Linked DNA regions of Homo sapiens: region 1 is linked to region 2. The links come from fine-mapping of genetic effects on gene expression. Tissue or cell type: whole blood. Region 2 holds a variant in brackets; the other region holds the start of a gene. All regions are shown on one strand. Distances are between the middles of the regions. Region 1 holds the start of KDM2B (lysine demethylase 2B). Region 2 holds the start of MIR7107 (microRNA 7107).

The links.
Region 1: it holds the start of KDM2B, and the variant in region 2 is fine-mapped to the expression of KDM2B in whole blood (TOPMed, PIP 0.98).

What each region holds. Positions count from the first base shown.
Region 1 is chr12:121,578,131-121,583,569 of GRCh38, forward strand. It overlaps KDM2B (lysine demethylase 2B), which reads right to left and starts at 2,893. Exons shown (of 23, transcript NM_032590.5): 1 at 2,656-2,893; 2 at 672-816. The coding sequence starts at 2,781. It overlaps KDM2B-DT (KDM2B divergent transcript), which reads left to right and starts at 2,381. Exons shown (of 4, transcript NR_183427.1): 1 at 2,381-3,133. RefSeq lists silencers at 935-1,014, 2,174-2,483, 2,564-2,613 and enhancers at 2,183-3,118, 4,054-4,989, 4,990-5,439.
Region 2 is chr12:121,440,958-121,445,957 of GRCh38, forward strand. KDM2B (lysine demethylase 2B) reads right to left here. Exons shown (of 23, transcript NM_032590.5): 14 at 4,318-4,461; 15 at 3,493-3,579; 16 at 3,055-3,315; 17 at 2,723-2,836; 18 at 2,035-2,073; 19 at 1,200-1,879; 20 at 113-276; 21 at 1-20. It overlaps MIR7107 (microRNA 7107), which reads right to left and starts at 3,395; the gene lies at 3,316-3,395. The variant C/T (reference allele first, on the strand shown) is at 2,140.

The sequences.
Region 1 (5,439 bases), 140 kb after region 2:
CCCTGACCCCAATTCTTGGCTTCAACCTATCAAGGCTGTAGCGCTAGACAGCTCCGGCCCAGGTAGGGGTTCAGGTCAACAGCTTCAGGGCTCATGGGGTCCCTGATCCAATCTGGCAGAGCCCATGGGGGAATGCGGCTCTGCGGACCCCAGGCCTAAGGGGGCATCGTCCCAAACACCCGACGCGCCCCCATCACCAGTTCCTCACTGGCAGGCCCCAAGCGGGAACGGGATTGGGAAGGCTTCGGGCCTGGGGGGCCTTACCCCGATGCCCCAGGGGCGCCCTGAACCCAGTTCCAGCCAGGCGGCGGCACCTCAGGCAGCGCAGGGAGCGCGACCGGCTCGGGGAGGGGGAGGACGCGGCGCTCCCGCCCTCCCTCGGTCCGCCTGTCCATCTCCAGGTCCCTCTGTCCGCCGGCCCCCTGGCTCTGCCCACCCTGGGGCTGGTGGTGGGCGCGGGCCGGGCCTAGGCCCATGCCCGGCCCCCCTTACTGCCTGCCCTCCTCCCTCACCACCCCACCCCACCCCCCCAGTGCTCGGCCTCGTTTCGTCACCGGATCCCCTGGAATGGGGGACGCGGGCGCGAAATACGAACCCAGCCACCGGCAGCTCCCTCCCCACGTGCGCTCGGCCCGCAGCGCAGAGGGCGGCCCGGGGTGGGGGCGCCTCACCTTTGCCCTCCATGGCGTGCACGAAGTCCCCCTGGTACAGCTGGCTGCGAAGCTTCTCCTCCAGGCTGAAGCCGCGGACGCTGACGATCTCCTCCACGTCCGACAAGTCCTCGTTCTCGTCGTATCGCTGGCGGTCAATCGGGCGCTGCGAGGACCCAAACCAGAGAGCCCGGGACATTATTGTGGGGGCTGGAGGTCGCCTCTCAACCTGGGCCCAGCACTAACAGGTGCAGCAGCCGAGCGCCCCCTGCACCCCACCATTGCAACCCAAGCAACTTTGCGCAATTGCCAAAGATGCTGAAAAGCAGGACAAGGAGAGGGGCCCGCACCCCGAGGGTCCAGCTGCGCTCTACGCGGGGTACTCCCCTCCGGTGTCTTCGGAAGCACTGAAGGGACATCTGGGGACCCTCCCCTGCCCCCCGCCCCCGAAATGTGCTGGGCTTCGCCCACTCGGCCGGGAGCCTGGTTATGTAACCCGCGAAGGGGGCTCCGGACACGGGCTGGCGGGGCAAATGTAGGCCCCAGGAGGAGCCGCTGCGGCGCCCGGCTCGGCGGTAACAGCAGCCCCAGCGGCCGCGGCGGCAGAGCCGGGAAGCCGGAACCGGGGGCCGGCGGCATTTCTAAAGCTGGAGCCGCCCCCGAGCTACCGGGGAAGCTGGAAAGCTGAAATGGAAGGGCTGAGACCCCAGCCGCCCCCGCCGCCCGCCCGCCAGTGCAAGAAGAGGAGGTGGGGGGAGGAGAATCGGGGCTTGGAAGGGGGAGAGGCAGACGGCCCGCCACAAAGCTCGGATCGGAGACCCCAAAACGCACCAGCAGCTGCCTCATCTCCCCACAAGCGCGCGCGCACACTCACTTCCTAAGGAGACTCCCCCACCACTCCCCGCATCCCCCTGCCTCCTCCCTCCACCGCCCAGCGCCCGGCCCCTCAGCCCCCCAGATTCCGGGCGAACCCCGAGCCCGCTCAGCCCCCCTCCACGCCTTTCCCCGATACCACCTCCCCACTTAAGTGTCTGAGACTCTAAGCCTCACAAGGGGCTGGAGGAGTAAGCAGCTTGCTTCCTTTTGCATGCAATTTATTATATTTTTTTCCCGGTCCTCTTGCAAAATACAGAAAAGGAAAGAAAAGGCAGCGAGAAACAACCAAAAAAAAAAAAAAAAAGATCTATCATATGCCAGATACAGATTTGGAAAAAAAAAAAAAAAAAAAAAGCTACACACCAATCTTCTTCCAGAGTCTTTCTCTGCCTCCATTTTTTTAGGAGAGTTCACCAATTAATTGTCAACACTCCTGCCCCCTGCATTTTGGCCGAGGGGGGAAGGAGGGAAGACCAAAGAAAACAAACCAAAAAATAAATAAATAAAGCAAGCCAGAGCCGAGATCTACAAAGTTTTGCACCAACACTTAGGCAGATCCGTTTGCAAAGTCCTAGGAAACCATTTTCAGCAGTTGTGGGGGGGGGGAGGCGTCGACGTCATAATCCCCGGAACGTAAACATTGTTGCCGATCGCGCTCGGAGCCCGCGGCCGGGCTATTTGGGGGGGCTCTCGGCCCGGGCTTGGGGGGGTGGGGGCGGCGGCCCGAGGAGGTATGGGGCGGGGAGGGAGCCCGGGAGGCACCGGGCGCCGTTAGCGCCGTGGCATCGCTGTTTTGTTGTTGGGTCACGAGTGCGCCTCTGCACGCAGGCGCCGCCGCCGCCCGGGAGTTGTGTGCAGAGCTGACTTTTGGAGGGCCGAGTTGCAGGCGGCGGGCGCATCCCGGAGATGGCGGGGCAGGGAGGGAGGGAAGGAGGAGGGGGCGGGGAGGGAGGTGCAGATTTGCACGGCTGGCCTCAGCGGGAGGCGCGGAAATGCAAGCCGAGCATGCTGGCGTGAAAGCCCCCGGGGCCTGGCACCCCCAAAAACGACCCCCCACCTCCGTTCCTGCCCTCATTGCCCAGGGCTACCCCTCTTCCTCTTCTTTCATCCACCCCTCCCCCAACATTACCTGTGTGGCCGACTCAAATTCAAAGCATTTTGTATATATAACTGTTTTCTTTTTTTGCTTTTCTGCTGCATGTCTTTTTCGTGGGGGGTGATCCTCTGCAGATCCCCCCATTTGCGGACCCGCCATGTGGAGGAGGCATTTGGGGGGCTCAGAAGGAAATTAGCTCGGCTTCCATACCTATAAGGACTGCCTAACTTTTAAACTCCCGGCACTCAAAGATGTGGACACACACACGTACAGGAAATACAGCCAGACCAGAGCCTTTGCAGTCCGCAGCTGACCGGAAGACGTTGCCTTTCATTCATTCATTCTGCCCGCCTCTGTGGACTCCTTTACTAGGCGACCAGCCCTGAAACAGAAGTTGGACATTTTTTAAAGGTTCTTGCGCTCGGCAAGGGGAGCAGATAGATGCTCAGGAGCGAAAGACGCAGAGAATTGGATCTGGCGCCTCCTAACGCAGCCCGCACAGGAGCGAAGGGTAAGCCCTTGTTGGTAGTTTATAGAAGACAAGTCGGTGGAAAGGTGCATGGTGCTCTGGGATAGGTGGGGGGAACTCTAGTGCCCTTGATGAAGCCCCTACAGGGCTTCTTAGCGGAGGTATCGGCACCCTCCGTACATACATGGGTGTCATTAGGTCCCTGTCCACTTACTAGTGTTTTTGACTACCCCAGCACTGGTCCTGGGTTGTCTTGTCCTCCCATCATGAGCAACAGTCAGGTCGACTTGGCTTGAGAAAAGCTAGCCCTAAACATTCCTCCAGCCCCAGCTGTGGCGCCCTGCTAGGCCTGATCTTGCGGGTAAAGATGCTGATAAAATGACATGGCAAGAGGGAGACGATAAAGGGACATTGTAGATAGCAGGCTTTGAGCCTGACATTTTATTTCTGCCATAACCCTGTGGGATACTTGGAGCAGGTCATTTTGCAGATAGGGAAACTGAAGCTCAGAGAAATTATGAATCTGAATGATTGCTGTGCTCCCATATGGTCCCCAGGCTATCAGACAGACCTGTGGGGAGGACGTGGCTTCCCCACCAGGAGATACGATGTCACTATCAGCATCGTATTGGCCGTCCTAAGAGACAGCTTCCCCCTCACTCACCTTAGAAGTTTCCTGTCCTATCTGACTGTAGTCTTTCCCACCCATCCTCAAAGGCTACTCTTTGAAGTTTGTTTTCATTCATGTTCACTAGCTGTAAAAATCTTTTAAGCAGGGATGAGGCTGGGAAACATCAAAATTTGTTTCCAAACTGAAATCGCCCACGTTGGCTGCTGCGTGCAATCAGTAGCCCTTCGTGTGAGTGCTGCCGGTTCTGCCTTCAGTCCGTCCAGAACCATGGACCATTTTATTTGTTCCTGTCTTTCTCACAAGAACCCTTTAAGGGAAATCGTCTTGTTCGTTCCCATTTTGCAAAGGAGGAAATTAGGACTAAGAAAAGCAAAGCCACTCACCCAGGATCACATAGCGCGTATGTGCCGCTGCCAGGGCTCACACTGGAGCCTGGCTTGGCCATCACGTGCTTTTTTTTTTTTTTTTTTTTTTTTTAGTAACTTACCAGCCTCACTACTGCCCCATAATGAAATAAACATGTTCAAAGGAGGCTGCATGGGCTGGAGAGTGACGCAAAGTGAATTAAGTGAAATAAAGCAAAAAATATATAATAGAATGCTTCATCTAATTAATTCTTTTTTCTCCCTGAGGCCCTTCTTTCTCTCCAAGTGGCCTCATAGTGGCCCCAAAAGCTGGCATCAGAAAAAGGTCCAATGGCAGCCACCTTAGTATAAAAACAGTTAAGTCCATCTATCACCTCCACGAGGAGTTCCTGGCCTGTCAGAGTGGGAAGGGGCTGGGTAGTCACCTCATTTAATCCCCCCCCTTTACAAACCTCGAGGAAACCGCAAACACGAGAAAAGAATGGGCCAGCCGGGGGTTTGTTCCCCTTGGCCTCCCCCAGAATGCCTGCCCTGCTGCCGGGTCCTAAGTGGCCACTCAATAAATGTTGGGCCCTTGATGAATCACCTTCCCCCTCGATATTTGCATTTTCTCTTTATCAGTAATTGGCAGATGAAAGGCTTTGTCCTCCAGTTGAAAGAATTCCAAGCATTTGCTCAAAGTGGGGGAGGAGGTTATTTTGGACCAAAGGGGGAAGGGCCAAGACCCTGGAGCTCCCAGTGTTGACTAATTGTCCCAGAGAAGTGGAGAGTAGGTAAGGGAAGAGAGAAGGTGAAGGTGCTTACCCCAGAGATGTACTTTTTCTTGCAGGAAAACACCGGGCCGGTTGTATTGGAAACATAATAATAATTATTTCCTGGACCCTCCTGCTCGATCTTACAAAGGGCCCAGTCAAATCCTGCCTGAGTTACCCCCATTCATTCTTCATTCATCAAAGGTTGATTGAGCAACTCTGTGCCCAAAGACAGAGAGGCTAGAGAAAAGAAGATGCAGCGTGGGGCATGCAGATTGGGGCATACTCGAGGCTGGGTAGGACGATGGACCTGCAGCTTCCCAAGGAAAGGGTGGACACTGGATGTAGCTCTCAGAAACCAGAATCTTGATAAGAAATTGAAGTTGTTCTCATATTCATATATGATTATCATAACTCCTGATTTTTCTTTTCTTTTTTTTGAGAGAGGGTCTTGCTCTGTTGCCCAGGCTGGAGTGCAGTGACACAATCTCAGCTCACTGCAACCTCCACCTCCTGGACTCAGCAATGCTCCACCTTAGCCTTCCAAGTAGCTGAGACTACAGGAGTGCACCACCATGCCCAGCTAATTTTTGTATTTTT
Region 2 (5,000 bases):
CAGCACCAAGTCCCGGAGCCCTGGGGGGACATAGAAAAGGGTGAAGGTCAGGGGATGTGTCCCCAGCCCTCACTGCAGCAGACACACTCGGGGCCACTGGCCCAGGGCTCACCAGGCAGCCGGTTGATGAGCCAGCTCAGCTGCTTCTTGGAGATATTGGTCCAGCTGAGGTCGAGGGAGACGGGCTGTCGCCGGATGATGCCACTCAGCATCAGGGGTGTGATAGACTTGCAGTGGTTCAGGTCAATGCGGGTCCACAACCGCTTATCGCAGCACCTGGGGACCGGCCCCGTGGGGACACATCGTCAGAGGTGGGGCTCCTCTAGGGAGCCCACACACAGCTCTTAACTGTCCCCACCTAACAACCTCTGGGAGGCTCCTTAACTCAGCGCTCTGGACCCTTCTCTATGTAGCACCTATCCTGCCCCCACGCGGGCACCTCCCACCTGCTCTAACAGCCATGGCCTCCACTCTCCATCAAGTATGTATGTATGTATTAAGACGGAGTCTCGCTCTGTTCCCAGGCTGGTGTGTAGTGGTGCAATCTCTGCTCACCACAACCTCCGTCTCCCAGGTTCAAGCTATTCTCCTGCCTCAGCCTCCCGAGTAGCTGGGATTACAGGTGTGCGCCACCACACCCGGCTAATTTTTTTATTTTTAGTAGAAATGAGGTTTCACCTTGTTGGCCAGGCTGGTCTTGAACTCCTGACTTCAAGTGATCCGCCCGCAAAGCGCTAGGATTACAGGCATGAGCCACTGCGCCCGGCCTCCATCAAGTATTTACCATGGGCTTTACAACGCCCTCTACCGGCCGTTCCTCCAAACAACCCCCATGAAGCTGGCGTCATGCCCGTTCATCCAAGAGGGTAAGGCAGAGCTAAGGCCAGAAAGCTGGTAAATATCGGCTGGACTGAAGTTGCAACTCGCAGCCTTGCTGGAAACCTGGACTAACTCTCCGAAGCCAAGGACTCCACGTGGTCCTCACTTCACCCTCCAGGAAGCTAAATCGGAATAAACGGGGTCACCTCCTCTGACAAGACCAGAGGGGCCGCTGTAGCCAGCTGGAACGCTTTGCGGAGCACAATGAAGCCATACTGGGGTTTGGAAGGAAAGAGCATCGCCAGCGACTCCACACACCACGGGCCATCCCTGGTGCCGCCTGAGCCTTAACCTAGAGCCCTACACAGGCCGCCGCTCACCAGCGGTTCCAGGTCCTGCAGACCCGCATGCACACACACAGGTCTTGGTGGCTGAGGTAGCTGAAGACGGCCATCCACACCTCCCTGTGCATGACGTGGGCTGCCCCATCGTCCAGGGGTAGCGAGTCAGGCGGGGGGCTGATGGGGGGTGGCCGGATCACATGGCGCTCCATCTGGATACACTTGGGCGGGGACACGGAGGGTGGGGGCCGGGAGATGACACGGGGCGGGCTGCGCAGGCTGGGCCCCAGCTGGTGCCGCAGCTCCCGGGGGGTGCCGTTGAGCCCCTTGCTGAAGCGGTGGGGACGCTCGCAGATGCCCGGGGGCCGCTTGGGCTCCTCGCCCTCGCTCTCAGGCTCCGACTTGATGGGCTGCTGGTTCTCGTTGGCCAGGCTGTTCTCCGTCCTCTGGATCTCGTGGTTGAGCTCCTTGCTCAGCTCCCTGCTCAGCTCCTTGTTGGGAAGCCGCCGCTTCCGGCGCATCTTCACCTTCTTCTTCTCCTCCGGGCCCTCGGCCCCTTCGGTGCTGGGTCCCGCGGTGGGGGAGCTGGAGCGGGAGTGGTCGCTCTCCCTGGTCTTGGGGGGCGCCTCGGGCAGTTCGTCCTCGGGTTCCTGCTTGAAGCGCCGGAGGGGCTTGTTGGCCAGCGCCATGCGGTCCTCGGCGTTCTTCCAGGACCGCCGCTGAGGGCGAGAGCGGAGACGCGTCAGCCTCTGGGGCTCAGGGCTGCGCCCGCCCAAGGCCTCCCGCCCCCCTGCCACGGGACTGTGGCCCAGGGAGCTGCGGTGCAGCTCTAACCGCTCAGGCCTGGGGCACAGGAGGGAGGGGAAGATGGTACCTTTTTCCTGAAAAGCTTATCTTCTTTGCCAGGTTTGAGCTGTCACGAAAAAGAAAGGACGCAGAGCTTGCTCCCCGGGCTCGTGGGATTTGGTCTCCTCGACAC[C/T]CCACCCCACCACGAGTCCACAGTCTCCAGAGGAGGGGCTGGAGGGAGGCCTTCCCCACAAATGCCATCTCCACGTCTGACCGACAGACGGGCGAGCCCTGCCTGCAGCTTTCAAGGAAGAAGCTGGAAGTAGGAGTACAGTTGAACTGTTCCCACCCAACTGACCTCCCACCCCACAGACCTGGAGATGTGCAGCCGCCCATTCAAATCATCCTCGGCTCTGGGAGCCAGTTCTGGAGCACAGCCCTGTGGGAATCCCCGGCCCAGCAGGAATGGCTAGAGCTGGGAGAGACTCCTGGCGCCACCTTGTGGCTGGTGACAGCACGGCCCGTGGGTGGAGCAGGGCCACCAGGCTCCTCAGAGGTTCCCTGGACTCACAGCTTCCATCCCAACCAACAGAGGCTCTAGGCACAGACAGCTTCCCAGGCCCCAAGCCAGAACCACGAGCCAGAGATCTGGGGCCGAGACCTGGGAAGCCTCAGGAGAGGCAGCAGTGGGGTGGAGGACCAGCGGGGTGGGGTGGGGGACAGCCCAGGACTCGCCAGTCCCCGGGGCCTCAGGAGGGCGTGCGTCGTGGGAGCACCTGCTGCTGGAAGTAAGTGAGACTGGATCTCCACCAGGGGCTGAGGCTGCTGCCTAGAGGGGGCCTCGGCGAGAGGTGAGAGGAGGAACCGGGGGACGTTTGAAGCGATGAGGCCTAAAGGGGGGTGGAGTGGGAAGAGGAGTGACTCGCTGGTTTTCCCCTCCTTTCTTTGGGGCAGGGCTCTCAGGACTTAGGTGACCTGCTCAGGGCAGCAAGAGGCCGGGATTATCCCAAGCTCTACCTGCTGCCCACCCCCTGCCCCATCCCTCCAACCCAGCACCCGGGACCAGCCAGACCAACCCCTTTGCCTCCCAGCCCCTCCTGGTCCGTACCCGCTTGCGTCCACTCAGCTCCTGGGGCTTCTCGTATTTCCGCTTCTTCCTCAGGTGCACGTCGTCAGACTTTCTGCGCAGAAGGCCGTCCGGCGGCACCTTCTTCGAGTGCTCATCCGACCTGCGCCGGGGCGCCTCCTCACACTCACTCCTCCGCTTGGCAGGTTCCTGCCCTTCCTTGTTGTCCCGGTTCATCTTCTGCTCCTTGAGCAGGGAGCCGGGCAGGTTGGAGGCGTACTTAAAGCCAGGGCCACGCTTTTGCTTGTAGGCCAAAAAGAGAGAATGAACAGACCAACTGTATACCTTTGGACTTGCCCTTCCTCCTCCCCAGGCCGACGGCAACCCACCTGCCTGAAACTCCTGGGACAGGCTGGTCCCGGCCAGGCCCAGGCCCGCCCCTCTCCCGACTGACCCTGGGACTTGGAGCCCGGCACTCACTTTCCCGGTCTTGCCGGCGTGGTTACACTTCGGACACTCCCAGCAGTTTGGAAGCTCGTCGTTGACCACACCCTCTGACTCCTTAATCTGCGGGGAACACCAGGACTCAGAAGAGGGACGGGCGGAGAAGATGGCCCACGGGCACAAGGCTCTGTGACGCCACGTCTTCCAGAAGCAGCAGCACCCCCTCCCCAACGTCACATCTATCCCGTTTCCAGGCAAAAGAAAACACAGCTGCAGAGGCTGGCAGAGACGGGCAGCTGTGGATCCAGGCCAGGGTTCAGAGGCTGAGCCCCTTTGCTTCTCTGGGACCCTGGGCAAGACACTCCGTCTCTGTGGGCTGGTGCCCTCGGCCATAAAAGTTAGTGTGCCCATCTCACTGGGGGGGTATGACCCAGGTAAAGCCATGAGCTCAGCGCCTGGCATGCAGAAAGGACTCTGCAGAGGACTCTACTGGGTGCTGGGGGAAGGAGTGTGGTGTGGGGCCTTGTTCTCCCAGAAGCCTGGAGCCACCTGGAGGCGCTTCCTCTGGCCCAGCTACAAACAAGCAGCCTGTGTTTGCCATCTGCTGAGGCTCTGGAAACCCTCTCTGGTTCTGACATCCTGGGAGGTGGGGGTGTGTTTATTCCTTTGATGACACTGGGTCTCTGAGGTACTCCAGGCCCTCCTTGCCCCGGGCTTATCCCTTGACACACAGGATCACCCAGACTCAGGGGTCCTCCAGGAATTCACTGCACGACCTGCATCCCACCATCTCACCAGCATCTCCAGCAACCCTACCTGCCCCAGAGCGTCAGCACCACCTGTCCCCACTGGGCCACTCACCTTAAGGCATCCAGGGTGGATGATTTCATTGCAGATGGAGCACTCCATGAGCATGAGGTTAAACTTGCCTTCCTCCTCTTCCACCGTGTCTTCCTTCCCCGCCTCGCCACACACAAGGCACACGGCGGTGTGGGGCAGCACTGGCTGAGGAGCCAGGGAGAACAAGACAAGTCATCAGGGGTGGGGAGCACGGACCCCCAGGGGGGCCAGTTCAAGGGCAATGAGCTGCTCCCCTTGGGCCTGCCAGGAGACCCCCGGAAAGTGGCCCAGGCACATTCGCTCACTCATTCATTGAAATACGTATCAGGCTACTACCTCCACATGCCAGATACTACTCTTAATTGCTGGGGATACAGCAAGGAACAAGACAGCTCAAAATCTCTGCCATCCAGAGCTTACATTTTAGTGGAGGGAGGCAGACAAAATGGACAGAGCATGTTAGAGACAGAGACATGGGGAAAAATTAGAGGGCTGGAGTGAGGGGCAGAAGGGGGGCTGATTTTAAATATGGAGGTCAGGGAAGGCCTCACATTCAGAAAAGCCCCAAAGGAGCAGGGGCGTGAGCGCAGCCCAGATCCATGCGGATGAGATGAAGCTGCATCTCACCAGTGGGTATTCAAGGCACAGACCATGGACTGCGGGCTCCCAAGACCTTTACAGAAAGGTTAGGAGGTCAGAACTGT